4 linked regions of the Homo sapiens genome follow. The protein of the gene in region 1 purifies or fractionates together with the protein of each later gene. This does not show direct contact. Each region holds a gene or a part of one and is shown on either strand. Other genes may lie near its edges.

The links.
Region 2: the proteins of MUSK (region 1) and PSAT1 fractionate together in Homo sapiens (co-fractionation; one large-scale study listed by BioGRID). This does not show direct contact.
Region 3: the proteins of MUSK (region 1) and TMEM150C fractionate together in Homo sapiens (co-fractionation; one large-scale study listed by BioGRID). This does not show direct contact.
Region 4: the proteins of MUSK (region 1) and SLC18B1 fractionate together in Homo sapiens (co-fractionation; one large-scale study listed by BioGRID). This does not show direct contact.

What each region holds. Positions count from the first base shown.
Region 1 is NC_000009.12:110,779,478-110,787,321, forward strand, and holds part of MUSK (muscle, skeletal receptor tyrosine-protein kinase isoform 1 precursor), read left to right. Parts: intron 1-5,335; exon of another isoform or gene 5,336-5,337; coding exon 5,338-5,539; intron 5,540-6,049; coding exon 6,050-6,241; intron 6,242-7,844.
Region 2 is NC_000009.12:78,306,660-78,314,503, forward strand, and holds part of PSAT1 (phosphoserine aminotransferase), read left to right. Parts: intron 1-1,754; coding exon 1,755-1,924; intron 1,925-7,844. UniProt on the Homo sapiens protein: Involved in L-serine biosynthesis via the phosphorylated pathway, a three-step pathway converting the glycolytic intermediate 3-phospho-D-glycerate into L-serine.
Region 3 is NC_000004.12:82,557,671-82,566,278, reverse strand, and holds the start of TMEM150C (transmembrane protein 150C), read left to right. Parts: upstream 1-4,290; 5' UTR 4,291-4,373; intron 4,374-8,608. UniProt on the Homo sapiens protein: Nonselective cationic channel with high permeability to Ca(2+). Component of a mechanosensitive cation channel, confers mechanically activated (MA) currents with slow inactivation kinetics. May contribute to proprioception.
Region 4 is NC_000006.12:132,789,627-132,797,470, reverse strand, and holds part of SLC18B1 (MFS-type transporter SLC18B1), read left to right. Parts: intron 1-349; coding exon 350-489; intron 490-6,605; exon of another isoform or gene 6,606-6,686; intron 6,687-7,198; coding exon 7,199-7,294; intron 7,295-7,633; coding exon 7,634-7,707; intron 7,708-7,844. UniProt on the Homo sapiens protein: Proton-coupled polyamine antiporter involved in the translocation of polyamines from cytosol into secretory vesicles prior to their release via exocytosis.

The sequences.
Region 1 (7,844 bases):
TATCTCCAATTTTTAACTTTTTCTTTTGCAACTGACTTCCAAAATCCTCACCTCCATGTTTACTTTTTACTGGCTGCCACAAGCTTGAGAATATCCAGAACTGAACACAAAGCACAGAACATGATCTGATCAGAATTGCAATGCAACCATATTTTCTGTGATAAGGCCTTGTTCTTTTATGAGTATAGATTAAACTCATGCTAGCTGTCTAATAATTTCATGACATTAATAGCCCTTCTATACACATATGGGTTTACTGATTTCCTTGATTTTCTAATAAATTTTCTACTAGACCAATCCAATTCATAATTATTTTTATTACATTCTTCTAGCATTTATAATAATTTGTACTTTACATGTTTAGTTACTATGTTCTATGAGGCATAGTGATCCAAGACACTTTTCTTTTTATATGAAGCTCTTTACCAATGTAAAATGTCACTCTTGTCTTGTTTTAGTGCTTTTAGCTTTAAATTTCTAGTATTAATAATGGTAATTTTTTCCTTGTATTTATGTTAACCTAGCACCTCTTTGTTCCTCTTTTATTTTTCTTTTCTTATAAACAACATATACCTGGGTTTACTCCAATCAGATAGCCATTTTCTATTAATAGGAGGATTTAGCCTGTTCATATTTTATATCACAACTGATATACTCTATTTTATCCCTACTATCTTAACTGTATATTTTCTATTCGCTTTACGTTTTTGCTTCTTCTTTTTCTTTTTCTTTACTTGTTACTGGTTATGTTTTCTCCACTGCTAAGTGAAAGTCAGACACCAATTCTTTCTACACATCGCAGTGCTCTATTTATTCTTCATTTCTGCCCACCCCATGGGACTTTCAGAATCTCCAGGAGATCCTCAGACTGCTTGGATCTTCTTCCTTACCTCCCCTGGTACTCTTAGGTTTCTCTTTGCAGAGTGATTCTCAATATTGAGTCTTACCTAGCGAATTAGCCAAGACTCCACCCATCACAGCCCCTTCACATGTATCCTGAAGTTATTTTCTGATTCAATTGTTATTAAGAGTCTCCTCATGTATTTCCTTAGAAGGGAAAGTGTCTTGGGAGACAGAATCCCTGAAGCCTTGTGTGTTATCAAATTGTTTTCTTTTATTTGGGTAGTTGAAAAGTGTATTAACTGGGTATGGAACTCCTGAGTGACATTTCTTTGGGTGGTTTATAGATGTGATTTCACTCTTTTCTAGCTTCTAGTGTTGGAAGCAGGTAGTCTGGTGTGAATTTATTTTTTTCCTGTAAGTAATTTATTCTTTCTATCTAGGCAGAAACTTTTTGATTTTTCCCTTTATCCGTGATATCTGTATGATAAAAATTGTTTAATCATGTGCTATTGAACATCTCTTTCCAACTCCATGATAGGGCTTCATGTTGGGAGCTTGAGATAAGCTATGATGGGAATCTTTATCCCATTGAAATCAGGATGGTAGACAGACCTTTCTAATGCAAAAAGTTGATCATGCTATTCCACCTCGTAAAACACTCCTATAAGACCCTCCATTTGCTGCAGGGCATAGTCCAAATTACTTAAATTGGTATACAAGGACTTTTATCACTAAACCTGATATCTGCAGCTTTACCTATAGATACTCCCCAACTCCAACAATGAAACTTCTAGGTGCACTTTTAGAAAGGCATCACATCTGCTTAGTTCAGATCTTGGTATATGCTATTACTTCTTTATAGAATACTATCTCTCTACCCTGACTCCATTCTACTCTCTTAATTCCCCCATCCCACACACACGTTTGTGTGTGTTTTTTTGTTTTGTTTTGTTTTGTTTTGTTTTGTTTTGTTTGAGACGGAGTCTCACTCTGTCGCCCAGGCTGGAGTGCAGTGGCACAATCTTGGTTCACTGCAAGCTCCGCCTCCCGGGTTCACGCCATCCTCTTGCCTCAGCCTCCCGAGTAGCTGGGACTACAGGCGCCCACCACCATGCCCAGCTAATTTTTTGTATTTTTAGTAGAGATGGGGATTCACCGTGTTAGCCAGGATGGTCTCGATCTCCTGACCTCGTGATTCACCCGCCTTAGCCTCCCAAAGTGCTGGGATTACAGGCGTGAGCTACTGCTCCCAGCCCACACCTTTTCCTTAGTCTGTTCAGGTTGCTATAACAAAATGCCACAGACTGGGTGGCTTATACACAGAAATTTATTTCTCACAGTTCTGGAGTCCAAGAAGTCCAAGATCAAGGTGCCAGCAGATTTGGTATCTGGTGAGGACCCATTCCTCATAGACATAGCTGTCTTCTCCCTGTGTCCTCACATGGCAGAACGGGCGAGGGAGCTTTCTTGGACCTCTTTTATAAGGGCATTAATTCCATTTATCAGGACTCTACCCTTATTCATTTCAACACATGAATGTGGGGGAAAGACACAAAGACTCAGATCATCATAACCTTCAACTGGTTACTGGCTACTCACCATTTATGTTTAACTTACAGTTACTCACTCTAGAAAACCTTCTCAGTATGTCTAAACCTGAGTTAGTGCCAGCCCTGAACGAGACTCACAAGCATCGTGTTCTTACTACTCCTATAATGCTTCTTATATTTTGTTTTATTTCTCCATTTATTCACTTGTGTCTCATGACAAGCAAAGACTTCTCATGTTCACCACAGTGTTCTGGATACCTAACAGTCACTATTGATTTAGTGAATGCATTTACATATGGATGAATGAGTGTATAAACTCCCGTAGTGTTCAGAGGAAAAGAATCAAGACAGAAAATTGGTGAGAGAAAAGATAAAAAGGAAAAAGAATGACGATTCAAAGTGATCCTTTAGACCCAAAGAGATCATTGATGTAGTTCAAGGGAAGATCAGATCAAATCAGAAGCAGTCATCAAGGAATAACAAAACAAAACTATCTTGAAGGAAAGAAACATTTAAATCCATAAAGCAAAATTATTGTTCCAACTATGTCATTTCTTGCATTTTAAAAAAACTCACTAAATCATCATAGATTTTTCTTTTAACATGACAGTAAATTCTACTTTCTGATTCTTTTTAGAAAAACTAACCTTATATTTACCAGTGAAATTACACTACCAACTTTACTAATTACATTATATTCCCTCACATGTTATATATGGTGTGAGATGCTCTGTAAACTCCAAATACAAAAATAGTTATTTCTCCCTATCTTTTAATAATTGTTCCAACTTTATTATTAGCAGAAAGCAAAGCTCGTCAATTTAAGCCACCCCCTACCACCACCACCCACCCATCTTAGATCGAGAAAACTTGGGATGACTCAGTCCAAAGAGAATCAGACTAGCTTTCAAGTCAGTCAGAGAGGAACCTGGTCAGTCTGTTGAGTCCACCACTCCTGTGGTGCCGGATGAGGCATGCTGTCACTGATCTTGCGCAGATGTTTTATTGCTGTGCTGATGTTCTTCCAGTTCCAGGTGCCTGCCTGAGTCACAGTGGTGACCAGGCCTGGCATCCGCAGGCTTCAGAATCACTTGCTTAGCCATTGGTACTCAGGGCATAATCACTGGGTCCACTTCATGTATGACTAAGAAGTCATACATGAGCGTCTCTTGTAGCCTCCAATTTTGCAAGTGCCCTATTTCAAATGCTTTAGGCATCTACTGCCATAAAGGTTTTATTTTGACTTTGTAATATGTTATATTAATATGTCCCCTTCTATTAAATCATTATTCTCTGACTATGATGTAGTCAGTTGCTAATATTTCGTTTAGGATCTTCTAAACTTAGGTTGTATAATCTATGTATGCTCTTTTCTTCTGTGCTAACATTGCCAGGTTGTGATATTGGTATTATAATAATTTCTAAAATAATTTGAAAGAATTTTCTCTTACTGGAACATATTATAAATATGGAAATTTTATCTCTTTCAAGACTAAAAGAATGTCTTTTATAATGTGATGACTTAAAAATCTAGTTTCCTGCCTATGGTAATATTTATATTTTCTAATGCTTCAAATTTGGGGATTAATATGTTCCTATCATTTTCCTTAAGGTGTGAAATATAATAATTACACATTATTTTAATTAACTTTGAATCTGTTATAACTTTTTTATCATTTCTAATTTTCTGTTTGTACCTTTTCTCTTTAATTAAAATTCCATTGATTAGACTACTATATGAATATTTATAAAACCAACTATTGATCTTTTAATTCTATCATTTGTGTTACGTGTATTCTAACTTATTAACTTCTGCTTGTGTATGGCTGTTACTTTATTACCTATTATCTTTTGTTTTCTGTAGTTATTGTTTCTTACCCAAAGTCTTGGGTTAAATGTTCAGTTCATTTACTTTCATTCTTTTTTATCTAGTGGAAGGAGATAACACTATGACTTTATCTTTGAGCACAACTTTGGCTAAATAAAATACACACTATTAAGAGGCTTGTGTCTAATCTATAACTATAGTTACTCTCTAGTTTTTGATCAAAAAGTCATTGATTTTTTTCTTTTTAAAAATGTCCCATTGGATTTTATTTAATCTATTATTAATTGCACTTTGGCCATTAAGTAGATATGCATAATTTCTGCCTTTAAAATTTATTGAGATTAATCCACAAATATTTGAAAGGAAGGTTTATTCTCTATTTTTGGGTACAAAGGTCATTCTTAGCTATTAAAACATTGTTGCTGATTATTTTAAAATACTCTGTATCCCTGTTTTTGTCTTTACTCAATCTGTTAAGAGGATTTAAATGTGATTAATAAGGTTCTTTTAATACATATACAATGGACTTTGTACTCTACAAATAGTGGTATGAGTATGGCATCTTTTGGTTTCCAACAGTAATGCTGATTTTACTTTATACATATCACATCGGCCTTTTAAATTGAAGTTTGACAGGAGTTCAGTTTTTAGATGAATTAACTTCTCATTTGTCTCCTAATATTTTCATTTTTCATCTTCTTTCATGATTTTTCTTCTGTTTGTAAACTGACAGTAAATGTATATAAAAGCTCAGCTCTAGACAATCCTGATGTCAAGTGTAATTATGTGAAAATATTTTATTTGATAATTTCCATGATTTATGTCAGGTCATAGATAATATGATTCAGTATAAATGGCACCAGCCCAAGATCTACATTTATCTCAGAAAAAAAAAACCTATTTCCTCTCTCTGAGTCTCATCTTTAAAATTCTATTATTCTATAAGCTGGATTTACTTACAACTAGACCTTACTGAACTTTATAAATATATAACCAGGGAGAACCTGATACATAAATATATTATTATCATGAAATTTATTTTACTGATTGCTTAAATACAAAAAATTGCTTCTTAAAGGTTTGAGAATGAATGAAATAATTATTCTTTACTTACAGCATTCCCACCAATGACGTCCTCAAAGCCAAGTGTGGACATTCCAAATCTGCCTTCCTCCTCCTCTTCTTCCTTCTCTGTCTCACCTACATACTCCATGACTGTAATAATCTCCATCATGTCCAGCTTTGCAATATTTGTGCTTCTTACCATAACTACTCTCTATTGCTGCCGAAGAAGAAAACAATGGAAAAATAAGAAAAGGTGAGATTCTAGTTTCAGCTAACCATGTGTAGTAATATTTTAAAGCCTTGTGTTTTATGGAGTTGGTATGACGTGAGGAATATATATGACACTGCAACTCTCTAAATATATCCGTAGCCCTGCTTTAAAATTAAGCACCCCCATCATGATCTTTACAAATGTCAATGACTTTTTGGCATGGGATCAAATCAAATGCCCTAGGGTTACTGTTTCACAAAAGGTAAAATCTAAACAATAATTTGGAGGAAAATGGCTATTCCTGCTCCTTGTCTTCTCCTCAGGCCTGTTGCCATTGCTGGCTTGGAGAGCTAAACATTTCTGAGAAAATGTGCCTTTTGACTCTAGACCAAACAAAATATTTTATTGCTCTCAAAACGAAGGATCTTTGGCTGCCTTAGTATAACTTGTTTTCATTACTCTTAAATGCCATATTTCTTAGAATCTAAGTCTAAGTACAAAGATCTAACCTGCTTCTGAGCTCATTCCTGATCTTGCCTGTCTTGCCTGCAGAGAATCAGCAGCAGTAACCCTCACCACACTGCCTTCTGAGCTCTTACTAGATAGACTTCATCCCAACCCCATGTACCAGAGGATGCCGCTCCTTCTGAACCCCAAATTGCTCAGCCTGGAGTATCCAAGGAATAACATTGAATATGTGAGAGACATCGGAGAGGGAGCGTTTGGAAGGGTGTTTCAAGCAAGGTAAAGTTACCTATGGAAAAAAAAACTCCATTGAAATATGTTATGTCTGAAAAGCTACCAAACTATTAGCTTGGTATATATATAATATTAGCTTTATATATATATACACACACATATATATATATATATCAAGCTAATGATATAGTACATATATATGTACACTGTGTGTGTATATATATATACACACACACATATACATATATACACACAGTGTAATATACAGTATTATATAGTATTAATACAATATTATATATGTATTATATGGTAATAATATACTATATAAAATAGTTTTTATCAAGTTAGTTAATTCTGGCCAGGTGCGGTGGCTCGTGCCTGTAATCCCAGCACTTTGGGAGGCTGAGGCGGGAGGATCACCTTAGTCAGGAATTCAAGACCAGCCTGGCCAACATGGCGAAACCCCGTCTCTACTAAAAATACAAAATTGAGCCAGGCATGGTGGTGCACAACTGTAGTCCTAGCTACTCGGGAGTCTGAGGCAGAAGAATTGCTTGAAGCCGGAAGACAGAGGTTGCAGTGAGCCAAGATCGCGCCACTGCACTCCAGCCTGGGTGACAGAGCAAGACTCTGTCTCAAAAAAAAAAAAAAAAAGAAAAGAAAAACTAGTTAATTCTTTACATCATTAACCTTATTTGTATTGCATAATACACTTCAAATCTTAATTTCCCCTCTTTGCTGGAAAACAGTAGCCTATATGGAGATAATATATTTTACTGCACTTAAAATAGGTAATTTATTGGAGATGTAAATGTGTCTTCACTTCTACGATTTTTAAATTATAAGAAATTAGTAATATAGTTCAATAATATTTCCTTTTCAGGAAAGAATTTACCATATATTTTTAATCATAATTTCTTACATTGTTTTAAATAACTCCTTACATTATAATATAATGTATAGATATTAAGTAGATGTTCATGAAATGACAAACAGAAAAGGAATAAAAAGGCAAAAATTTATAAAAAATGAGCTCAAGAAAGGAGTATGTATTAGGGCCAATATTAGCCTATGTATCACCTTTGTGCGAATTGGAATAAAATACCCTTTCTGCTGCATGGATATGGCTCCACAGACACACAGCTGAGCCAGAGAATATGAATTTGGTTTTAATCTCCAACTGGCACTTCGGCCTGGTGCTCTTGGGCAAGACACAACTTAATCTCCACCCATGGTGGCCCTGGCGTAGAGGTTACATGAATAGTGAAAATCTCACACAAACATGTCTTGGAAACCAAAATTTGCAAGGCACCACTTTAGGCTCAATGGAGGGTACAAAGATGAGTAAGCCATAGTTCCTACGTCATGGAATTTAGATTCTGGACAAAGATTAAAAGGTTAGGATGTGGCTGGGCGCGATGGCTCACACCTGTAATCCCCGCAGTTTGGGAGGCCGAGGTGGTCATATCACGAGGTCAGGAGATTGAGACCATCCTGGCTAACACAGTGAAACCCTGTCTCTACTAAAAATACAAAAAATTAGCCAGGTGTGGTGGCGGGTGCCTGTAGACCCAGCTACTCAGGAGGCTGAGGCAGGAGAATGGTGTGAACCCAGTATGTGGAGCTTGCAGTGAGCCTAGATCATGCC
Region 2 (7,844 bases), about 32 Mb from region 1:
CTGAGTCCTGCTGTTCCCAGCCTCGTGGTGATGTTTGCCTCACAGGGTCCCACTCGAGTCCTTGGGGAACTACCTGCTTTTGAGAGTGGTTCTTAGAAACGTGTTTGGTCAACAGACGGGGAGAGACTTGTCTTCAAGAGCAGATGCAGATTATCCCGAGCCCAGGGGACCTATGTGAGGGAGCTTCCCCTTGCCTGGTACCCACCTCCAAAAGCATCAACAGGATACCGTTTTATGAGTGGCTTGCCAAGGCAGGGCAGTGGGACTGGCGCTGTAGGTACATGCCCCAGGGTGCGATGCGGGTAGAGAATCTAAGAACAACAGTTGAACTGACTGAGTGGTATTCTGCCTTTTTAATTGGGATAAAATATAACAAATTTTACCATTTAATATAAAATATACCATTTTAACCATTTTTAAATATACTGGTCAGTGGCATTGAGAGCATTCACATTGTTGTGCAGGCATCACCACCATCCATCTCCAGAACTTTTACATCTTCTCAGATGAAATCTGTACATTAAACACTAACTCCCTCTCTCCCCACCGTCCAGCCCCTGGCAGCCTCCATTCTAGTTTCTGTCTCTGTGAATTTGACTACTCTAGGTATCTCCTAGAAGTGAATCATGTACTATTTGTCCTTTTGTGTCTGGCTTATTGCACTTAGCAGAATGTCTTCAAGGTTCTATTGCACTTAGCAGAATGTCTTCAAGGTTCGTCCATGTTGTACTGTGTGTCAGAGCTTCCTTTCTTTTTAAAGGCTGAATAATAATTGTTTAGATATACTGTATTTGGTTTATGGTCTGCTTTTTATTATCACCAGGCACTGGCAATTTTAAATAACTATAAATTACTTTCCCCCACCCCCAACTTCCTGCCAACGCTCAATTTTCCTAAGGGTTTCATGGAGAGAGGCATGGGAGAGGGTTCTGTATCTTGCACAACAGAATTACCTAAAGTACCTTTAAGCCTCTGTTTTCTATAATTTCTTCTCCCTCAGGCAGCTTGTCCCATCCCTTCTCTTTGTCATAACAGTCCCTTTCTCAGCACCTTCTGACTGTTCTTTTATACAAATGTAAATAGATTAAAAAATCTGTTTTGGCCAGGCGCAGTGGCTCAGGCCTGTAATCCCAGCACTTTGGGAGGCCGAGGAGGGTGGATCATGAGATCAGGAGTTCAAGACCAGCCTGGCCAACATGGTGAAACCCCGTCTTTACTAAAAATACAAAAATTCACTGGGCATGGTGGCACACGCTGTAATCCCAGCTACTCGGCAGGCTGAGGCAGGAAAATTGCTTGAACCCGGGAGGCAGAGGTTGCAGTGAGCCGAGATTGCGCCACTGCACTCCAGCCTGGGTGCCAGAGCAAGACTCCGTCTCAAAAGAAAAAAAAAATGTTTCTTCTCTTGGTAACCAGGGAGAGTTAGAGGCCCCACGTTAAAGACTCCTTTCTACTTTGGGGGTAGAAAGGAGGTGTGCAGAGCGAATGTGAATATGTGCCAGGACTTTGCAGTGATGGGCTTGGGTTAGCCCCATCCAGGTGAGGACCAGGCTGACGGATCATCCTCAGGCTTTGGAACTCTGAGTATGGGTTTGCTGTCCACATGGAGATTGCTTTAGAGCATGAACTGCTCCCTACACAGGATAGAGTCATTTCCTTAAAAAAATTGTGCTTCGGGAAGAGTTGGGAAGTTTGCATACATGTATGAAAAATGGCCAAATCCTTCTTAAGCAGCATGTCTTTCTCTTTTTAAGTTTGGTGTGATTTTTGCTGGTGCCCAGAAGAATGTTGGCTCTGCTGGGGTCACCGTGGTGATTGTCCGTGATGACCTGCTGGGGTTTGCCCTCCGAGAGTGCCCCTCGGTCCTGGAATACAAGGTGCAGGCTGGAAACAGCTCCTTGTACAACACGCCTCCATGTTTCAGGTAACTCTGGGAGTCAGTCTTGTGGACCCAGGGAGGGGTCTCACTATTTTTCATCAAAGCGGAGGTTACATTTTAAAATAAAACATGTAAGCCTGGGCGCGGTGGCTCACACCTGTAATCTTAGCAATTTGGGAGGCTGAGGTGGATGGACCACTTGAGGTCAGGAGCTAGAGACTAGCCTGACCAACATGGTGAAACCCTGTCTTTACCAAAAATACAAAATTATCCAGGCGTGGTGGCACATGCCTATAATCCCAGCTACTAAGGAGGCTGAGGCAGGAGAATCTCTTGAACCGGGGAGGTGGAGATTGCAGTGAGCCGAGATGGCACCATTGCACTCCAGCCTGGGTGACAGAGGGAGACTCCATCTCAAAATAAATAAATAAATAAGCAAACAAACAAACAAATAATAAGTAAAATAAAGTAAAGCATGTTTCCAGGAGCCGGTGATCAAATGCCCCAGATATCCTATCAGATTCTCTGCCCAGCTCACCTCTCCCTCTGCACCATCTCTTTACCATTTGATCAGCTTTTCCTCTTGTTCTTTTCTGGGGATGTTGTTTTTTGTTTGGTCTTGGTAATCCAGGATCCGGTGGTTCACCATTAACCCAAAAGCTCTCTATACATGAGGTGCTGTGGCCTGCATCTCAAACAGCCAGTGCAGCTTTGGAGAAGAACTTTCAAAAGCTGGGCCTCCCCTGCCTTCATTTCTTTCTCTGTCGGGCCTGCGGGAAGCTGGCTGCCTGACAGAACATACTGGCTTAAATACCTTTCTGGGTTTTGTTGTTGTTGTTTTTTGAGACGGAGTCTCGCTCTGTTGCCAGCCTGGAGTGCAGTGGCATGATCTCGGCTCACTGCAACCTCCACCTCCCAGGTTCAAGCGATTCTCCTGCCTCAGCCTCCCGAGTAGCTGGGATTACAGGTGCGTGCCACTACGCCCAGCTAATTTTTGTATTTTTAGTAGAGATGGAGTTTCACCATGTTGGTCAGGCTGCTCTTGAACTCCTGACCTCAGGTTATCCGCCGGCTTTGGCCTTCTAAAGCGTTGGGATTACAGGCATGAGCCACCACAACCGGCCAACATCTTTCTGTATTTTAGCCTAATCTGAAGGGGTCCTTTTAGCCTGGCTCTCATTCGCTGACTGGGGGCTGCGTTGCAGCACTTCAGGAAGAGCAGGGTTGCCCTGCCTCAGGATCCTATAACTCCCAAACTTGGGTATTTTGAGAAAATCTTCATGGCTCTTAAGATTTACAATTGCCTAAGAGAGTCTAGTATTTACTAGCTGTGTGACCTTAGGCAAGTCACTTAACATGTCTGTGTGGTAGGTTCTAGAAGTAATAATAGTACCCCTTTCACTGGGTTGCTGTGAAGATTAACATACATATAAATAAATCTGTGTATATATATAAAAATTTTAAATTTTGCACTGAGTACCTGGCACTTGGTGATTGATAAATATTAGCTGCTATGTTGTTATTGTTATTGTGAGTTCTCAGAGCCTCAGCAGGAGCAGACACAAGGGAAGAGCTGGAGTTTGTAGATTTATCTTTCTAGGGCCACTATGATGCAGAATGGTGATGCTTTATGTGTATGACCGTTTAATCCTCCCAACTACCCTAGTAGGTAGCCAGTGTTATGATCATGATTCCCATTTTGCAAGTGAGGAAGCCGAGGTCATATTTTAGGAAGTGGCCTGGCTGGGGTGTGAACCCAGGCCATCTGACTCTAGATCCTGGGTATGTACATTCTGCCATTAGTGCTCTCTCTTCACCAGCAAAAGGATGAGTGTGGATTTGCGTGTGTTTGCAGGATTCTGCCTTAGGAGAATAGTTCACTGTTGGAGTCCAGCTCTTCTCTCAACAGGATTTTCTTGTCTTGGTGGAAGTTCTCTTAAAGGAGCGTAGGAAAGAGGGGGCTCAGGCTGGTGCAGTTAGTGGTTCCATCTGGGCCAGGATTTTGTCAGAGCTTCCCCTCCTCCAGGTGCTGCTTAGGGAAAATGTCTTCTACATAATTTACTATGGAAAGGAAAGAATTTTTTTTTTTTTTGACAGAATCTTGCTCTGTTGCCCAGGCTGGAGTGCAGTGGCGTGATCTCAGCTCGCTGCAACCTCCGCCTCCCGGGTTCAAGCAATTCTGTCTCAGCCTCCCGAGTAGCTGGGAGTACAGACGCCTGCCACCATGCCTGGCTACTTTTCGTATTTTTAGTAGAGACGGGGTTCCACCATGTTGGCCAGGCTGCTCTCAAACTCCTGACCTCAGGTGATCCACCTGCCTCGGCCTCCCAGAGTGTTGGGATTACAGGCGTGAGCCACCGCCGGAATTTTTTTCAATGTTAGAATTCTGGTGAAAATTCTGCTGGGTTTCTGCTTGGTCACACGATGCAGAGCAGCAGCTCCTCACATTGTGTCTCCCACTTTCCTCAGGGGAGTGTTCTGGGATGCACTCTCCTGGTCACCTCTAAACCCTACTGTCTTTTACCTTGGTTGAAATGTTTCTAAAATGCATGGTAGGGATGGGAGTGGGGCTGAGTCTTACCTCCCACTCGCCTGTCTTACCTCTGGGGAAGCACCAGTGGTCACTGGCCAACTGGGACACAAGAACTGGGCAGGCTGAGCGGTGAGGGTGCAGCTGGGGACCTCAAGTGCTGGCCTCCGGGGGAAGGGGCCGAGATGTCAGGCTGCACATGGCAGGTAGAGGTACAGGAGGCTGTCCTTACCTGTTTGGAGATGGGGCCAGGGCCTGCCTTGCAGCTAGAGGAGGCTTTCAGAGGAGCCCAAGACCATCACCCATTTCAGAAGTGAGAAGGTGGGAGGGGGCAGGGAAAGAGTGCTGTTCCTGAACTGTCCCACAGCCTGTAGGCCAGCAAGTTGCGATCAGGGTACAGCTTGGGGCAGGGCAGACAGTCACTCTCTGGTACCTTCTTCAAGGGTTACCTTGAAGAGCATTTTTTTAAAAAGGAATGAACACGGCCGGGTGCGGTGGCTCACACCTGTAATCCCAGCACTTTGGGAGGCCGAGGCGAGTGGATCACAAGGTCAGGAAATCGAGACCAGCCAGACCAACATGGTGAAACCCCGTCTCTACTAAAAATACAAGAATTAGCCAGGCATGGTGGCGGGTGCCTGTAGTCCCAGCTACTCAGGAGGCTGAGGCAGGAGAATCCCTTGAACCTGGGAGGCAGAGGTTGCAGTGAGCCGAAATCACGCCAGTGCACTCCAGCCTGGGTGACAGAGTGAGACTGTCTGAAAACAAAAACAAAAACAAAAACAAAAACAAAACAAAAACCATGCAAGGTTAGAAAATCATTGCTCACCCAATGAGAACAAGCTGCAAATGGAGACATCAAGATGTGTGCAAAATCCCCTCCCCAGTCCGTGATGTGAGGCTGATGGGGTACCTGGAGCCCTTCAGAACTTTGTATCACATAGTAGAGTTCTTGAAAAGGCCTCACTTTTGAAAAGACGCCTTTTTTTTTTTTTCCCCACAGAGTCTAATGACCATAGGCCCTGGGAACTTTGATTTAATTGTGCTGGATAAAACTGCCTTCAAATCGTTGCTCCGTAGCCCTGAGTGATGAACTAGAGTGGAATAAAGAACACACTGCTGTTCTCTTTAACCCTTCAGTAGAACACACTAACCCCAATTAGTGCATAGAGAAAAAGATCCCTAAACTTCCCTTCTGACTGCACAAAATATTTTTTACTTACCATGACTAACTGAATACACAAGCATACGTTTGTTTTAGCTGCAGTATGAGGTGAAGTAACTAATAAAAATACAAAACAAATAGACCATTAATCTTAGGCCACCTGTTAAAAGAATGAGAACAGGCCAGGCGCAGTGGCTCATGTCTGTAATCCCAGCACTTTGGGAGGTCGAGGCAGGTGGATCACCTGAGGTCGGGAGTTCGAGACCACCCTGACCAACATGGACAAACCCCGTCTCTACTAAAAATACAAAAATTAGCCAGGCATGGTGGCACATGCCTGTAATCCAAGCTACTCGGGAGGCTGAAGCAGGAGAATCACTTGAATCCAGGGGGCAGAAGTTGCAGTGAGCCAAGATTGTGCCATTGCACTCCAGCCTGGGCAATAAGAGCAAAACTCCATCTCAAAAATAATAATAATAATAAATAAATAAAAGAATGGGAGCATGCAAATTAAGTTTGTGGGCCTGTTTGGAAGGCTTCACTGGTCCCAGACTACCTTCTCCCAGTGGGATGGGGATGCCTGGAATCCTGGAATTCACAGAGGGGTGTGTAGTGGAGCCAGTTTTGGGAGCTTTCCTCTGGGAAAAGTGCTCAACTCAGTGGCTACATTCACCGATTCCTGAGAAAACTGTGCCATAACATCAACTTCAGAACCTCATCTGCAGAGCTGGAGTCTTAGAACAGCCAGGGAGAGTTTTCCAGGGGACTTTCTGGTGTCCTTTTCTAAGCCCTGGTGCACAGGGACTATTTTGTATTGCTTTAAAAAATTTATAACAGTGATATACTCTTAGGCTGGGTGTGGTGGCTCACGCCTGTAATCCCAGCACTTCAGGAGGCCAAGGCGGGCAGATCACCTGAGGTCAGGAGTTCGAGACCAGCCTGGCCAACATGGTGAAACCCTGTCTCTACTAAAAATACAAAAATTACCCGGGCGTAGTGGCGTGCACCTGTAATCCCAGCTACTCTGGAAGCTGAGGCGGGAGATCACTTGAACCTGGGAGGCGGAAGTTGCAGTGAGCTGAGATCGTGCCACTGCACTCCAGCCGGGGTGACAGCAAAACTCTGCCTCAAAAAACAAACAAAGAAACAAAGAAACAAACAGTAACATACTCTTAGCAAAGACTTGCAGGTGGGCAGAGTCACCAGGGTAGCCACTGTTCACTGCTTGCTTTGTATCCTAACAGACTCTTAACTGGGCATATGCAAATATACAGAGTCATATATTTAATCATGCAAATGGAACTTGAACTTTACCATACAAATTGTTCTGTGAATTCTATTTTTCCACTCCACAATATACCATGGGCATTCTGCTATGTCAGCTCAAATGCCTATTTTTATTTTTTACTTTTAAATTTTATTTTTGTTAGAGACAGGGTCTTGCTCTGTTGTGCAGGCTGGAGTGCAGCAGTGTGATGATAGCTCTCAGAAACCGCAAACTCGTAGGCTCAAGTGATCCTCCCACCTCAGCCTCCTAAGTAGCTAGGACTACAGGCAAGTGCCACCATGCCTGGCTACATTAAAAAAAAAATTTATGGCGACAGGGTCTCAATATGTTGTCCAGGCTGGTCTCAAACTCCTGGCCTCAAGCTGTCCTCCCACACTGGCCGTCCAAAGTGTTGGGATTACAGGCATGAGCCACCACACCTGGCCCTTTTTTGTTTTAAAATATATATGGTGTCCTGTAGAATGGACATACCTCGATTTATTTAATCATTTAATAGGCAGAGTTAGGAACCCTATCCTGTGTGTTTGCAGGTGGCATTTTAGAAATGAAGGCATAAGTCTTAAAAATGTCACACTGGTAGTGGGAAGAATTGAGACCACTCTATAAGCTGTGTAAGCGTTTTAGAGCCCTTGTGTTTTCAAGATTTTAGACGGTATGGGAGTTGAAACATGAGTTAATAAAGAACTGGAAGCCACGAGGGTCCTGTGTTAAGTAGAGCCACAGGGGCTAGACATCAGTGCTCTGCAGAGGGCTGGGTGGGAGGGGAGGCAGGACCTCCTATCCTGTGTTAAGTAGAGTCACAGGGGCTAGACATCAGTGCTCTGCAGAGGGCTGGGTGGGAGGGGAGGCAGGACCTCTTATCCTGTGTTAAGTAGAGCCACAGGGGCTAGACATCAGTGCTCTGCAGAGGGCTGGGTGGGAGGGGAGGCAGGACCTCCTATCTTGTGTTAAGTAGAGTCACAGGGGCTAGACATCAGTGCTC
Region 3 (8,608 bases), on another chromosome or scaffold:
TTGATTTTTTTTTTTTTTTAGATGGAGTCTCGCTCTGTCCCCAGGCTGGAGTACAGTGGTGAGATCTCGGCTCACTGCAACCTCTGACTCCCTGGTTCAAGAATTCTCCTGCCTCAGCCTCCTGAGTAGCTGGGATTACAGGCATGCACCATCACACCCAGCTAATTTTTTGTATTTTTAGTAGAGACAGGGTTTCACCATGTTGGCCAGGATGGTCTCCATCTCCTGATCTCATGATCCGCCCGCCTCAGCCTCCCAAAGCGCTGGGATTACAGGTGTGAGCCACTGCGCCCAGCTGATTTTGTTGTTTATCAGAGACTACTTGGATTACCAGTTGTTGGATAAGGTTTGGCAATAACTTCGTTATACAGAGATTTTTATTATAATGAAAGTCATTGCAATTGGACCAGCAGCAGGGATTTCCAGAATCCCTGAGAGCGTTATTTATGAGCTGTGCTTCTCAATTCTGTTTTTTCAAATGAATTAGGGAAGTGATTTGAATCATAAAATAACAAAAACAAATTGACTGCCCAAGAGAAAGAAAATGAGCAAGAATATAAAATTTCTTTGTAATTCTAAATGTTCTGTAGTGGTTTCAGTTAGATAATAAATTCATTTATATCAGGAAACCGCCCCCCAACTCAGATAGATGGATGTTTGTGCTGTGCACCAGAGTTAGGACATCAGCCTTGTAGAACAACATGGTGTTGAAATTAGGATGCCTCGTTGTGGTTCTGTAGAATGTTGATGTCTCTGAGTATGGATCTCCATTTGACACAAAATTTTACAAAGTTTGTGGCTGGCATCTCTTTCTGGGCCTTACGCTCTATTTCTTCCATGCCCCAGTCTCTAACTCTGTGCTTGGTCTTTCCTCACAGACTGAATCACTTTGGAACATATCAACAGATCATTTAAAGGTACAAAATGAATATTTGTATGCAATTTTTAAAAAGACAGCCAGTTGTGATCAAACTCCTTACCATCAGTAGGACACACATGAGAGTTCTGAGAATAAGAGGAAGAGAGTTCACATATGAGAGGGCAGAACCAAGCTCAGTGGTGTAGGAGTTCTTGGGAACAGGGGGAGTGCTGCAGATGTTAGACAGAGAACCTAAATCCTTCACTGCCAATGGCCATTCCAGAGATGGCCTTTGAATTGGAGGCAGAAGTGGGACAGAACCTTTATTCAATGTCACATTTTATAATGGACCAATGTGACAACCTCCCAAGTGATGCCAAGGCATAGCACATACTCCGAGAGCTAGCTTCCTATAAAAAGGAGTAAGAGGCCGGGTGCGGTGACTCACGCCTGTAATTCCAGCACTTCGGGAGGCCGAGGCAGGCAGATCACGAGGTCAGGAGATCGAGACCATCCTGACTAACATAGTGAAACCTCGTCTCTACTAAAAATACAAAAAAAATTAGCCAGGCGTGGTGGCGGGCACCTGTAGTCCCAGTTACTCGGGAGGCTGAGGCAGGAGAATGGCATGGACCCGGGAGGCGGAGGTTGCAGTGAGCCGAAATCGCACCACTGCACTCCAGCCTGGGCGACAGAGCGAGACTCCACCTCAAAAAAAAAAAGAAAAAAAAAAAGGAATAAGAAGAGGATGTAGGAAGATCCTCACAAATATGTGCTTGCCTCATCAACACAACAATTCCTCACTCTCACTCCCCAAATACTCAGGACCAAGCTGCCTTGGGGCCTTTAATGGTCTTTGTGAGGTAGAAGCAAGTGCTGGCTGGAAGCCTTCAGAGATTCATTTAAAATTCATCCCCCAAAAAATACTCAAAAGAAAAAAGGACAACCGGTTCTGGAAAAGTATTTCAGTCTTACACCCATATATGATTTAAAATATCTAAGGGTATATTGAGTACATGGTGGACAACAAATTTTAACAGATGGGATACCAAGAAAAAGGCACAGAGAAGCCCATGTTTTGCTTGTACTCTCGAAGCTTCGCTCGAACTCTCATGACATTAACAGAATCTGCTTATAGCAACCAACTCTCCTTCATGGCCAGCATTTTAACACACAATTTCAGCTGGTAATATCACTGTCAGGAATGTAATTCATTTTGCTTTTTGGGTTTATTTGGAGGGACATTTTGGAGATGAAGGCGGCGGTGATTTAGTGGTGCTGAGGAATGGCACTGAGCCTGCGATCCTCACAAACTCAAGTTGGTTTTTTTTAGGAAACATAGGCCTGGCTCTAAATGAAAATGAAAATGTTGAAATAAATTAAACCTGGTGCATGGATTCTCAATCCTTCCACAAAAAAATGGGGGAGGGGAAAGTAAGGGCATTTTACAAATTGGGAGCCCTATTCCCAAGAAAGGGAGTGATATGGCATGGCCATGTCGGAATCACCTGCGGTTCTTTGTCAAAATACCTGTGTTCTGGTTTCCCCCGCCACCTCCAATCAGGTTTTGACTCTGGGTCTGAGGTGAACCCAGGCATCATTTTCTAAAGCCCCCACTGGTGATTCTGATGTGAAAACAGAGTACCACTTCTGTGTTTGAGGGACAGCTAATTCTTTGGCTGGATCTACTTCTGAAAGAATGAATTGGAAGATCTAGCTAGAGGACTCTTTCCGTTATTGCAGAGAGAAATGAATGGCATGGGGACAGGGAGTAGAGAGAGGAGGGGTTCATGGATGGGCCTCAAGCAATCTTACCTTTGGGGGAGTCAGACCACTTTGAGGGTCTGATTAATGTGTAGTTACTCTCCTCAGAAAAGTACACATAAGCTAATTCCCACAAAATTGAGCATATACTTTCAAGGGAGTCTAGACTAAGATTCAGTTTTTGCTTTTGCTATTTTAATTGAATGGATAACAGTCCCACTCATTAAAATAAGGAAAACAAGAGAAGGCAAGATCCCTGGTCTCAGGAAGCTTACAGTCTAGTAGCCAGGAGAAAACAGTAACAAGAAATCAACATACAGAAAAAAAAAAAGAATCAATATACACATAGTAGACAATAATCACAAGAATTGTGGGGAAGGGAGAGTTCTGGAACCGAACGTTAATTGCAGAATTTGAATATGCTGAATTGGAGAAGATTCTTAGAAACACCTGGTTGGGCCGGGCGCGGTGGTTCACGCCTGTAATCCCAGCAGTTTGGGAGGCTGAGGCAGGCGGATCACTTGAGGCCAGGAGTTTTGAGACCAGCCTGGCCAACGTGGTGAAACCCCGCCTCTACTGAAAATACAAAAATTAATCGGGCATGGTGGCGGGCGCCTGTAATCCCAGCTACTCAGGAGGCTGAGGCGAGAGAATCGCTTGAACCCGAGAGGCAGAGGTTACAGTGAGCCGACATTGCGGCACTGCACTCCAGCCTGAGCGACAGAGCAAGACTCCGTCTCAAAAAAAAAAAAAAAAAGAAAGAAAAGAAAAGAAAAGAAAAAGAAAAAGAAAAAGAAAAAGAAAAAAAGGGAATGCCTGCTTGTGTAGAGACAGCAGTTTAAAGGAGACAGGTGTGCTACGGAAGCCCCCAAAAGAATAGAGGGCAGACTGACAAAGGCCGGTTGATAGAGAGCCACCTGTTGGAGGCCAGAGAGGTTGTGTTTGGAACCCAGGCTCATGATGAGCCTAAGATAAAAATGGCATTGATCCATGCTGCTGCTAGAGGTCACTGACATGGTGCCATGGGGTCCCATGGTAGGTTGGGGGTCCGGGATGGGGGAAGCTGTCAAAACGCTGATGAACACAGTTTATGACGGACTCAGACGAGACCCAGGGAGGAAAGCTGCAAGCTGGCGCTGGGAGGTCGGCCTTGGTGTCTGCTGTTCATTGCCAGGGTCCGAAGTTGGCTCTGTGTTTGTTCAATAGGATGGAAAAAAAAAAACCAAAAACCGCGGGACAGCGCTGAGTGGAGGAGAACTACATTCAGTCAATGGGCATGAAAATGAATTTTAGCTGCTTTGTGCAAAAACCCTAGGTGTGCGGACGAAAGAGAGCCAGGCAGAAGGTTACAACAGGTCAGGAATAAATAACCACCAGGCGGAGGATCCAAGATTCTGTCCTTCCTTTTGTTGGATGAGGAGCGCCAGGCAAACGCGTCCACAAAGGCTTCGGAAGGAAGCGGCTCGCCCGCCCACACCCGGCTCCTGCCCCGGGTGACTATTAGGGGCCCCGGGGGGGTGGCAGAAGCCCGAGACCCAGGGGATCAACTCTCCCCGAAGGCCTAGCAGCGGGGACCCCAGAATAAGTCGGGGGCGGGCCCCGGCGCGGCAGGAGGGGGCCGGGCGGGCGGGTGAGCAGATCCCACCCCTTCCTGAAGGAAGCGCCCTACCCGCCGCTACTGCTGCCGCCGCCGCCACCGCAGCAGGTCACAGCCCCTCGAGGCGACAGCGGCCCCGCCGCACCAGAGCAGGTAGGCGCGGCGCCCCCTCCCCTGCCTGGGCCCGTCGCGCAGCCAGGGGGCGTCCGGCCCGGCCCCGTGCGCAGCCCGCAGGCGGAGACCGGGGACGGCGGGGGCTGCAGCGCGGCTGGGGCGGCTGGGTCCGCCCGGCTGCGGGGCCCTGCTCGGCTGCGGCCCCCTCCCATAGCGTCCCGGGCGCGGGGCCGCCCGCCCGAGCCCTCCGCGGGCGCACGCTCCCCGGCAAGTCCAGGAGTCGGTGCCGGCTCTGCCCCGCGACCTGCGAACGCCCGAGCCGGCGCGCCTCGGTCCCCGCCGCCGCAGTGCCGCCAGCCAGCCCGCCCGCTGCGGCCCCGGCCCCGGCCCCGGCCCCGTCCTTTGACAGGTGTCCCCACCCGCCGCCCCATCATCTCGTTATCGGGTGGACTCGGGTGAGAAGCGACCCCAAGTTTGACCTCCCGGTCCCTGTGCCATTCTCCCTGCACTTTGCGGTTAGCCAGGTCAGGCTGGCTCGGGAAGCAGGGGATCTGGGAAGGAGGCACTAACTTGCTTTGCCCTGTGTACCGCCCTCCACTCTAAATGCACAGTCTTCCTTCCTTTCCTGGGCGCACACTTGGGAAGAAATGGGATTTTTGGTTTTTCGGCGGGAGGCCGTGGTAGGTGGGTTACCTAGGCTCTTTGGTAATCTGCTGCAATAAAAAAGTGATTAGCTTTGGGTTCTGGAGAGAGTCCTTGAGTGGTTTTCCCCTCCTTAAATGAATCAAATGGAGTATGAGAGGGTTTTCCCATTTTAAATTCATGCTCCTTTTTTCTCTACTCATTCCTTTCCTCCACCCCTACCCCCACAGCACTTTATGATGTCCCACACATTTCACTGATCTTTTTGGTCAGGTTTATTCCGGCCAGACCGCCTTTCACGGTTGGGCCAGGATTGTGACCGCATGTGGGAACATAGCTCAGGTAGAATGGAAGTCCATCTTCCCGAGTGAACCCACTCCGATGTCCTACATGCGAGGTCCTGTTGGGGAACCAGATATACCAATGCCATGTTGAAAAACAAAACCAAACAGTTATTGGATCTAAAACAATAACAAAGCCTAAATGGCAGGATCAGTTTCTGCATCTTTCTCTGCTTGAACCAAAGACATTTTAATAGTGCAGGGCTATAACTCCATTCTGGGCAGCAGTTCATCGAAAGGATAGTTGAGTGTGGATTTATAAACTCCATGGTAGCAGTCATTAAACTGACCTACTTAAAGTTTCCTATTTCAAGGAAAAATTGTTAGGCCCATATATGTGACCGATCAAAGAATTTTAGTCTCAGCTCTCATGTATCAAATCCCAAACTTTTTCTTGTATGTGTTCTAGAGACTCCATGTTTCCAGGATTAACTATAGCTGTCATCTATTAATGAGCTAGAAATGTGAGTTTAATCTTCAAGGCATAAGCGTAGGAATTTTAATGGTGTGTCCTTTATACATTATTTAATAAATGTTTTGCAAGTCCCCCAAGTTGGAAGCTCACAAACTGGACATGGTAAATAAAAGGGTAAAGAAGTTTTGCTAACAATAATGACTAGTTGATAGATGTTATGACATTCACAAATATATTAAAGTATTTGAAAAACACTTTAATGCATGTTTATTATAATCTGCCATTAGCTGAATGCAATCTGTTTGGATTATTTAAATTGGCATTTAAGTCTTCAGAGCAATTGCTTAATTCATGCATTTCTTACAAATACCTTTTCCATGTTGCTTTGTGGGGGGATAATTTGCTCTATGGAGTAATTTTTTTTTTTGCGTGAACACAATAATGCGTTCTATTTAGCCTTTGTTGTAGAACTACCACAATCATGTTCACAATGACCTTGCAGGGGTTTTTGGGCTCACTTTATCTGCTTTGCAATTGTCAAGAGAGAAGGCCCTTTGCTTTACACTCTTGTCTGTCTTCCTGCTTTGTCTCGCCTGTGACCCACACCTCTTTAGTACAGTGGGTCAGATTAGCAGGGCAGCCTGGAGTCATGAGAGAGGAAAAGCTAGCTGGACCCCGCAATCTCAGCCATTTGGTTTCACTGCAATCTGGCCATTTGGGATCAGTTCAGTAACCAATTAAGCAAGACAAGCACTGACAAGATAATGTATTACTTCTCAGTCATCCCCTTTCACAGAAGAATCTGTAACACTTAGAATCAGCACTACGGTGTGATTAGGTTCTGGTAAGGGTCCAATGAGATGTGTGCTGAAGTTCCCAAAACATTATAGGGTCCAAGTGTTATTGAATCCAGGTCTAAGTTCATGAAAAGCGTAGGACTAGACACAGGTGTGTAATAAGTGTGTCCCTACTTTTTTTGTTTGTTTGTTTTTGAGGCGGAGTCTCACTCTCTCGCCCAGGCTGGAGTGCAGTGGCACAATCTCAGCTCACTGCAACCTCCGCCTCTTGGGTTCAAGCGATTCTCCTGCCTCAGTCTCCCAAGTAGCTGGGATTACAGGCGTCCACCAGCATGCCTGGCTAATTTTTTTTTTTTTTTGTATTTTTAGTAGAGACGGGGTTTTACCATGTTGATCAGGCTGGTCTTGAATTCTTGACCTCAATTGAGCCACCCGCCTCGGCCTCCCAAAGTGCTGGGAATACAGCCAGGAGCCACTGTGCCCAGCCCCTGTCACATGGGTCCGTGTGAAGAGAGTCCACCAACAGGCTTTGTGTGAGCAACAAGGCTGTTTATTTCACCTGGGTGCATGTGGGCTGAGTCCGAAAAAGGAGTCAGCAAAGGGTGGTGGGATTATCATTAGTTTTTGTAGGTTTTGGGATAGGCGGTGGAGTTAGGAGCAATGTTTTGCAGGCAGGGGGTGGATCTCACAAAGTACATTCTCAAGGGTGGGGAGAATTAACAAAGAACATTTTTAGGGGTGGGGAAATTACAAAGAACCTTCTTAAGGGTGGGGGAGATTACAAAGTACATTGATCAGTTAGGGTGGGGAAGAAACAAATCACAATGATGGAATGTCATCAGTTAAGGCTATTTTCACTTTTGTGGATCTTCAGTTGCTTCAGGCCATCTGGATGTATACGTGCAGGTCACAGGGGATATGATGGCTTAGCTTGGGCTCAGAAGCCTGACAGCCCCTACTTATTTTAACTATAAATTTTTACTCCTGGAGCTGATGGTGCCATGTAGCTTTATATTTTTTCATAGTTGTTCTAAGTATTTTAAAACTTGTTCATAAATTATTGGAACTTTAAGTTATTGTTATCACCAAATATCATTTCCTGGTATGTTTAGATTTTTTTTTTTTTCTGGTATGTTTAGATTTTGAAAGACAACTTGTGGCAATGGAAAATCAATCATCATGCAAAGAGATTTTAGATCAGCCATTTAGAATATTTTGAGATAATCGTGAAATCTTTGGCAGTAGCCTTCAAATTCAGCCCCAAACTATTCTGAGTCAAACCAGCTTTGGTAGGTAGGGCTTGAAGCTCTTTTACTAAGTGAGAAATTAATATTTTCCTTTTTGGCATCTATAAACAGCCTTTTCTAGATCAGTGCTGTCCAAAAGAACTTTCTGCATTGATGGACATGTTCTGTAATCTGTCCAGTATGATAACCATGAGCCACATGTGGCTATTGAACGCTTGAAATGTGGGCTAGTGTAATTGAGGAACTGAATTTTAAATTTTATTTAGCCGTAATTAATTTAAATAGCCACATGAGGCTAGTGGCTACCATATTGGACAGTATAGTTCTGAATTTTCTCCCCATATTTCCTAGAGAGATAGCATTTAAAGGCAATTATCCTTTAATTAGAAAAAAAAAAGTGGCAATTGGCATTGATAATACCAGAATTGAGATTTGACTTCATAATCCTATTGCTATGAAAAACCACTTGTGAGGCCACGTGCAGTGTCTCACGCTTGTAATCCCAGCACTTCGGGAGGCTGAGGCGGGTGGATCATGAAGTCAGGAGTTTGAGACCAGCCCGGCCAATACAGTGAAACCCTGTGTCCACTAAAAATACAAAAAAAAATTAGCTGCGCATGGTGGCAGGTACCTGTAATCCCAGGGAGGGTGAGACAGGAGAATCGCTTGGTCCCGGGAGAGGCAGAGGTTGCAGTGAGCCAAGATCGTGCCACTGCACTCCAGCCTGGGCGACAGAGCTAGACTCCATATCAAAAAAAAAAAAAAAAAGAAAAAGAAAAGAAAAACCACTTGTACTTGCTCTGAAGAAGATATTTTGTGCTGAAGTTCAACC
Region 4 (7,844 bases), on another chromosome or scaffold:
CCCGCCACCACGCCCGGCTAATTTTTTGTATTTTTAGTAGAGACGGGGTTTCACCGTGTTAGCCAGGATGGTCTCGATCTCCTGACCTCGTGATCCGCCTGCCTCGGCCTCCCAAAGTTCTGGGATTACAGGCGTGAGCCACCGTGCCCAGCCGAAAGCAGTACGTTTTCAAAACGGCAGTAATGTACAAGGATTGTGTTCCATTTGATCAAATGTGCTATATTCAAAATAGCCCTAAGCTTAGCAAATGATATCTTCAGAGTGCAACATATGTGCACAGAAATCACATTTGTGTACTTTAATCAGTAGTCTCAATTATATGCCTAATTGCTGCATGTTTGCATTCAAGGTGATGATCCTGCAGGAAGTGCAGGAGAGACCCCCGGGTGGCTTTCGAGAGAACAGGTTTTTGTACTGATATCGGCAGCTTCGGTGAACTTAGGTTCCATGATGTGCTATTCTATACTTGGACCGTTTTTCCCCAAAGAGGTAAGACATTTTTAAATCCTTAGGACCTCTGTTTTTTTGTTTGTTTGTTTTTTAAAAGCCTTTTGAATTATTTTATTTTATAGTATATAAAATGTAAAAATCTGCATATAGGACAGATGGTGTATAGAACTCCAGCCAATAGAATACTTCTTATAGAATGCCTGATACCAGGAAAAAAAATCCAGTCAAAAAGAACATCTTCTTGGGAGGTAATTCACCTAAAAGTAGTTGATCTTCTGAGAATTACTTTTCTTACCATGTAGTCTGATTAATCTTTATTTGGTTTCTGCAACTGAAACAAAGGAGTGCACTGAATAACTGAGATTCAAATGTTACTGCAATAGGTCTGTGTTAAGACAGTAACTATTTTCTCGAGGTTTTATTCACATTTTAGAATTAGGACGTTTTGATTCCCGACCCCCCTTCCTTTTTTTTTTTTTTTTTTTTTTCCTTTCGAGACAGGGTTTCGCTCTTGTTGCCCAGGCTGGAGTGCAATGTTGTGATCTTGGCTCACTGCAACCTCTGCCTCCCGGGTTCAATTGATTCTCCTGCCTCAGCCTCCCGAGTAGCTGGGATTACAGGCGCCTACCACCACGTCCGGGTAATTTTTTTTTTTTTTTTTTTTTTGAGATGGAGTCTCGCACTCTCGCCCAGGCTGGAGTGCAGTGGCGCGATCTCGGCTCACTGCAAGCTCCGCCTCCTGAGTTCACGCCATTCTCCTGCCTCAGCCTCCCAAGTAGCTGGGACTACAGGTACCCGCCACTACGCCCAGCTAATTTTTTTTTTTGTATTGTTTTAGTAGAGACGGGGTTTCACCGTGTTAGCCAGGATGGTCTCCATCTCCTGACCTCATGATCTGCCCGCCTCCGCCTCCCGAAGTGCTGGGATTACAGGCGTGAGTCACCGTGCCCGGCCGAATTTTTGTATTTTTAGTAGAGACAGGTTTTTGCCATGTTGGGCAGTCTGGCTTCGATCTCCTGACCTCAGGTGATCTGCTTACCTTGGCCTCCCAAAGTGCTGGGATAACAGGCGTGAGCCACCACGCCCAGCCCCGGCCCCGCTCCATATTCCCTCTTTTGACTTTAATTTCTTATGGACTCTAGCGCCAATGTTTATGCAAGGGAGGAATTCTGATTAATAGGGCCTATTCCTTCTAGGCATAGCCTTTTATATGGTGTTAAGATTTATAGCTAATGACACAGATTCAAAGATAATAATCCCTAGAAAGTCCAACTGGATTCTAGACGTCAATAGGATATAGTATGAAATGAATATGACTGGCTTGGAGTGTAGACAACATATCCATGTGTTTTATTTTGTGCTTTTTGCCAAATCCTTGGCTCACAGTGCAGTGGAAGCTTGTTAGTCCTCCAACTGCCTTTTAAACATGTAGTCCTTCGTTCTGTGTGTTACAAAAGAAGATAAAGTGGCTTCTCTGCTAAAGGAACAATATTGCCATGTACCCATACAGTGCTCTCTGGCTTCTAGTACACATTACCCCTTATTTATCCATTTAATCCCCGCAACAACCTCATACAGAATCTTGAGAATCTCAGCATGTTGCAAATGAAGAAACGGTCTCAGAAGTTGTGACTTGCCCAATTCAGTTCTATTAACTAGAGGTTTAATGAGTCCCTTCTCTAGAGCAGGCTAAGCATGGGATGTGTTAGGGTAGTATAAAAAAATCAGGGAAATGGCTTTCTCTTGTCTGCCCTTTGGGAGTGAAAAAATATGGGAAAAAAAAGGTTCCAATAATTTGGATATCCCTTAAGAAAAGGATGTCCAGAATGTTATAAGACTGTTTTTTTTTTTCTTTTTTTAAATCATTTTCTTCTGGCTTCCCTCTATCCATACTAATGTTATGAGAGCCTAGAAAGAAGAATGGTTAATTCTGCCATACATGGAGTGTGGATAGCAGAAGAAAGGGCGTTACTGAAAGGAACTTTCAGGCTAAATCTAAGTTGGGGCTTTTTTTTTGAGACAGGGTTTCACTCTGTCATCGAGGCTGAAAGTACAGTGGCATGATCAGAGTTCACTGCTGCCTCAACTTCCCAGGCTCAAGAGATCCTTTCGCCTCAGCCCCCTGAGGAGCTGGGGCACAGGCATGTGCCACCACGCCTAGCTATTTTTTTCTATTTTTAGTAGAGATGGGGTTTCACCATGTTGCCCAGGCTGATGTTGAGCTCCTGAGCTCAAGCAATCCGTCCACCATGTTGGCCAGGCCTCTCAAATGCTGGGATTACAGGTGTGAGCCACCGCACCTGGCCTAAGGTGGGCCCTAAGAAGTGTTAATTCTTATGGTGAACAACAGAGATGGAGGTGTTCTAGGTATAGTCACAGGAAGAGCAGAGTGAATGGCATGTTCCTGGGGAACAACAGACAGCTTCTTGATGTGGCTTGAGCCTGGGGTGAAGTGAGGTCTAATAGGAGACAGTGGATCTGAGGAGGCAGGCCTAAGATAGAAAGGAAGGGCACTTGTCAAGGACTTAGTCAGTGGGCAGTCATCAGAGGTGTTTGAGCAAGAAAGAGCAGTCTGGCCAGACTTGGGATTTTTAAATAATAATAATAACAATAATAATGCCAGGCATGGTGGCTCACGCCTGTAATCCCAGCACTTTGGGAGGCTGAGGTGGGAGGATCACCTGAGGTCAGGAGTTTGAGACCAGCCTGGCCAACATGGTGAAACCCTGTCTGTACTAAAAATACAAAAATTAGCCAGGCATGGTGGCACGTGACTGTAGTCCCAGCTACTCAGGAGGCTGAGACAGGAGAATTGCTTGAACCCAGGAGGTGGAGGTTGCAGTGAGCCGAGATCGCCCCACTGCACTCTAGCCTGGGCAACAGAGTGAGACTCCATCTCAAAAAAAAAAAAAATTAAAAAAAAAATAATAAGAGCCTGTGGAATTGAGATGGAGAAGAATTGGAGTGAGTGAATCAACCAGTGAGAAGGGCATTTCCTAGCTCAGCTGGAACTCAGTGAGTGCAACTAATGTTAGTTTCCTCTAAGTGAATAGGGACAAAGGAAAACCATGCTGTGGGTGTGTGCTTTTTAAGTTTTTGATTGAGTTTTGTGCTTATAGGAAATGATGACCAAAGAAAAAAGTCAAGCTTTTAAAGAATTAAAGTTCATTTTATTCAGAAGTCTTACCGAGGACTATAGGCTGAGTATTTCAGTTCACAGTTCATGTACAGGTAGTAGAGACTCAGTACATGCACGGTCACATCAAAGTTTGGGTGTAAGAGTACATCTGGTTATAGATTATGAATGTACCTTTGGTAATAGTTTATAAACGCATAATCACAACCCTGTTAGATGTTATCTTATGTGTAGGAAAAGGCAAAGCTGGGGCATTTATCATTTAAGGAATGTAATAGCTCAGGCAAGAGATGTGGGGGACCATGTGCTCTATCCTGCTCTGTCTTCAACTCATCCCTCCCAAGAGTTGCATGTTGTCACAGAGTCAGGGGTTTTATGACATTATGCTGGCAAGCAGAAGTGAGCAAAATGTGACTTCTTACATTTGCTACTTTTGTCTCGCCTCGCAGAGGGAAGGCTGAAAGAAAGGAGATAGAGGCAGGAGAGAGAACATTCTAACTTTAAAAGCTGTAAATATGAAGAGAAGGCTTTGATTTTTCATTTCTGATTAAAATCTTGTGGTCAACAAATGCATTGGTGAAGCCTCACCCTTCCTCCTGCATGTTCTGTCATTTTTCTTATTAGCTAAGCTAACTGGGCAAAGGAAAAACAGTGCCTTTCTTAAATTATGGTGTGGGATTCCTACTTCTATTCATCATTTTTCTTGCCACACTCATCTTTTGTCAGAGGACCAGAAATTGCTTATTTATTTATTTATTTATTGAGACAGAGCCTCGTTCCATCATGCCCAGGCTGGAGTGCTGCGGCATCGTCTCAGCTTACTGCAACCTCCGCCTCCTGAGTTCAAACAATTCTCCCGCCTCAGTCTCCCAAGTAGCTGGGATTACAGGCGCGCATCACCACACCCAGCTAATTTTTTTGTATTTTTAGTAGAGACGGGGTTTCACCATATTGGCCAGGCTGGTCTCGAACTCCTGACCTCAGGTGATCCACTCGCCTTGGCCTCCTAAATTGCTGGAATTACAGGAGTGAGCCACTGTGCCCGGCCTAGAAATTGCTTTTAATAGCTGTTTTTGCTTTCCTAATGTGAAGCAGGATCCATGTTCCAAAAATGACATTCGGCTGCTGCTGTAGCATGTGGTTCTAGCACATCCTGTGTCAGCATTCCATTTCCACAGCGAATATGGGAACATGCACATGATGGAAACTGTAGTGGCTCATGACCTGTAACCTTTGCAAGTTCCTGTCCTCATCTATAAATGAGGCCAGCTAAAAATGTATCCTTTATTTAATTTAATTGTTGTTAGATACCATGTAAAACGGCACTTAATAAAGAGATTCTGGCTCATAATGAGGGTCTAATAAGTATTAATTGCTATAGGCATTATATATTTTCTGCTAGATTCTAAATTAAATACTTATCAGAACTATTAAGCAAAGAACATTGATAATGCAACTTGACTAATGAATGTCCTTCCTTCCTTCCTTCTTTCCTTCTTTCTCTTTCTTTCCTTCTTTTCTTTCTTTCCCTTCCTTCCTTCCTTCCTTCCTTCCTTCCTTCCTTCCTTCCTTCCTTCCTTCCTTCCTTCCTTCCTTTCTTCCTTTCTTTCTTTCTTTCTTTCTTTCTTTCTTTCTTTCTTTCTTTCTTTCTTTCTTTCTGACAGTGTCTTGCTCTGTCACCCAGGCTGGAGTGCAGTAGCACAATCTTGGCTCACTGCAACCTCTGACTCCTGGGTTCAAGTGATTGTCCTGCCTCAGTCTCCTGAGTAGCTGGGATTACAGGCACGTGCCACCACACCTGGCTAATTTTTGTATTTTTAGTAGAGACGGGGTTTTGCCATGTTGGCCAGGCTGGTCTCAAACTCCTGACCTCAAGTGATCCTCCCACCTGAGCTTCCTAAAGTGCTGGGATTACAGGCGTGAGCCCCCATGCCCGGCACGCATATTTTTCTTATGCGTTAATTGACTCCTTTCACAATACTTTCTTTTTGAGGAACCTGACCCGTGTGTAGTAGAAATGTAGACCTCATGTTCCAGTTGACATACAGCATAACCATTTGTCACAGTGCCATTAAAGGTATTTTAATGAACTCTCTCTTGTATCCACACCATTATTTCCTGTGGTTATTAGTACATGGAAAGGGAATGGCTGGTTATGAAGCCCAAGAATTATGGGCTTAAATCGTGCCCAAGCCATTACCATGGAGCTGTGGGCCCATCCTCTCTGCCCTCACCCACCACCAAGTGCTTAGGGACATTTCTGAGGACTTTTCCTAGAGTAAGAGAGAGATCCTTCCTAAAATTTAGCTTAGAACAATAGAGTTCACTTCTCTGGCTTCCTGTGGTATGACGCTATGAGGAATGTATGGTTTATTTAAAGAAGCATAGTCTGACATGCAAAAAAAAAATCCTTGAAAAAGACAAAGATTGAATGATGATAGTATCTTTACATGGGAAGGGATGGAGAAAATTTTTATCATCAATTGTAGAGAGAAAAGATAAAGAAAGGCAATCATGGTTATAGAGAATGGATGTTGAAGAGTGCAAAAGTATGTGCGCATGTGTGCATTTCTGTATTATGAAGTTATTTGCGAAAATCCAAAGCTCTGCCAAAAGGATGGATCTAAACTGGACTCTTCTGACCATAAATATTCACTGCTGGTACAATGCCTCATATATATAAGACGGTCAATATATGACAGTTCGGGCTTTCCTTTTGTAGTATGCTAAGTTGCCAGTCCTATCTTAAAGAAATTAAACTCATATTTTGATTCCTTAAATTTCTATAGCTAGAACCTGATTTAAGGATTTGCAATAGTTCCGGGACTTGACAAAGTTTTTTAAACTTTCTATTTTTATATGTGAATGTAGTTGTGTATCACAGTAGCATTTGAAGTTCAAAAGAAGTAGATTTATGATAAATATTATCTGTAGCAAATTTTAGGAGCTCCCTGATAGAATAGGCTATAAACATTAGTAACTGTAATTGATGGATGATAAACTACCTTGGCTGTTTCAGGAGAACGTAGAATGTCAGGGGAGCATCTCTCACCTGTGTTGTTGATGACAGGATGGAAAACTGTCTTCTCCAAACTGTCAGGTAATTGGTATTACTGTCAGAAACAGAGACCTAGACTGATTGGGCCTTGGTCTGACCCATGTGCCCACTCATGGAACTTCCTATTCTTGAGTTTGAAGACTGGCCAGTGTTTTTTGTTTGTTTCCTATAAATGTGATACCCAAAAGGAAGTGTGTCTGAATCAGCTGTTTCCTCAGTCCTGTGACTATGCAATAGAGCCCAAATTTCCTTATCCAAGGCATTTTTTTTGTGTTTGTTTATACACTCTGATTCTGACTTTTGCCACATAAAGCTAACAATTCTTTATAGGTATGGTGAGTGAATTATTTTCATGTAAGAGACTATGGTTTACTATCTAAACTATTAATAGTTTCCCTTCCTTCCCCACCCCATTTATTTTAAAAGAATAATCTTTTTGAAACTGATATACAGATAAAGTTCACAAGAAGATGATGCCCTGATCTATTATTTCCATTTTTTCATATTGATCTAATTTTTCTTTGAAACTTTGTTTCCGTTTCTATTACTTAAAGGCTGAAAAGAAGGGAGCCAGCAATACAATTATCGGTATGATCTTTGGATGTTTTGCTTTGTTCGAGTTGCTGGCATCCTTGGTATTTGGAAACTATGTAAGTATAAAGTTCATATGCACATCTTAATTTTTAAAAATTATATGATGGATTATTTTCGTTTACTAGTCTAGAATTTGCATTGATACAGAAATAGCCATCGTTATAGTTTTATAAATTGTGCCAGTGTTGACAGTTCTCTCCTCAGAGTTGATTGATTTTTAACTCTTTCCATGTTTTTAAGCAATGAGTACTGTCACCATATTAAAGAATTATTATAATATATTAACTGTACATGTCTTCCCCTATCCTATATTTGCCAATACAGTGGATTTGTTTATATCAATATAGACTTTCGGAAGTCATAAATTTACCACTCTTCTTTGACATTTATTATAGCTTGTACATATTGGAGCAAAATTTATGTTTGTAGCAGGAATGTTTGTCTCAGGAGGAGTTACAATTCTCTTTGGGTAAGTCATTTTCTGATTATATTTGGGAGCTTGAACAGATTTTGTAATGTATCTTCTGTTTAAATTGTTAAATACTCTTTAAGTCAATGGTTCCATTTATTGTCTGTCAAATGCATAGCATGTGACTAATGGCAGGA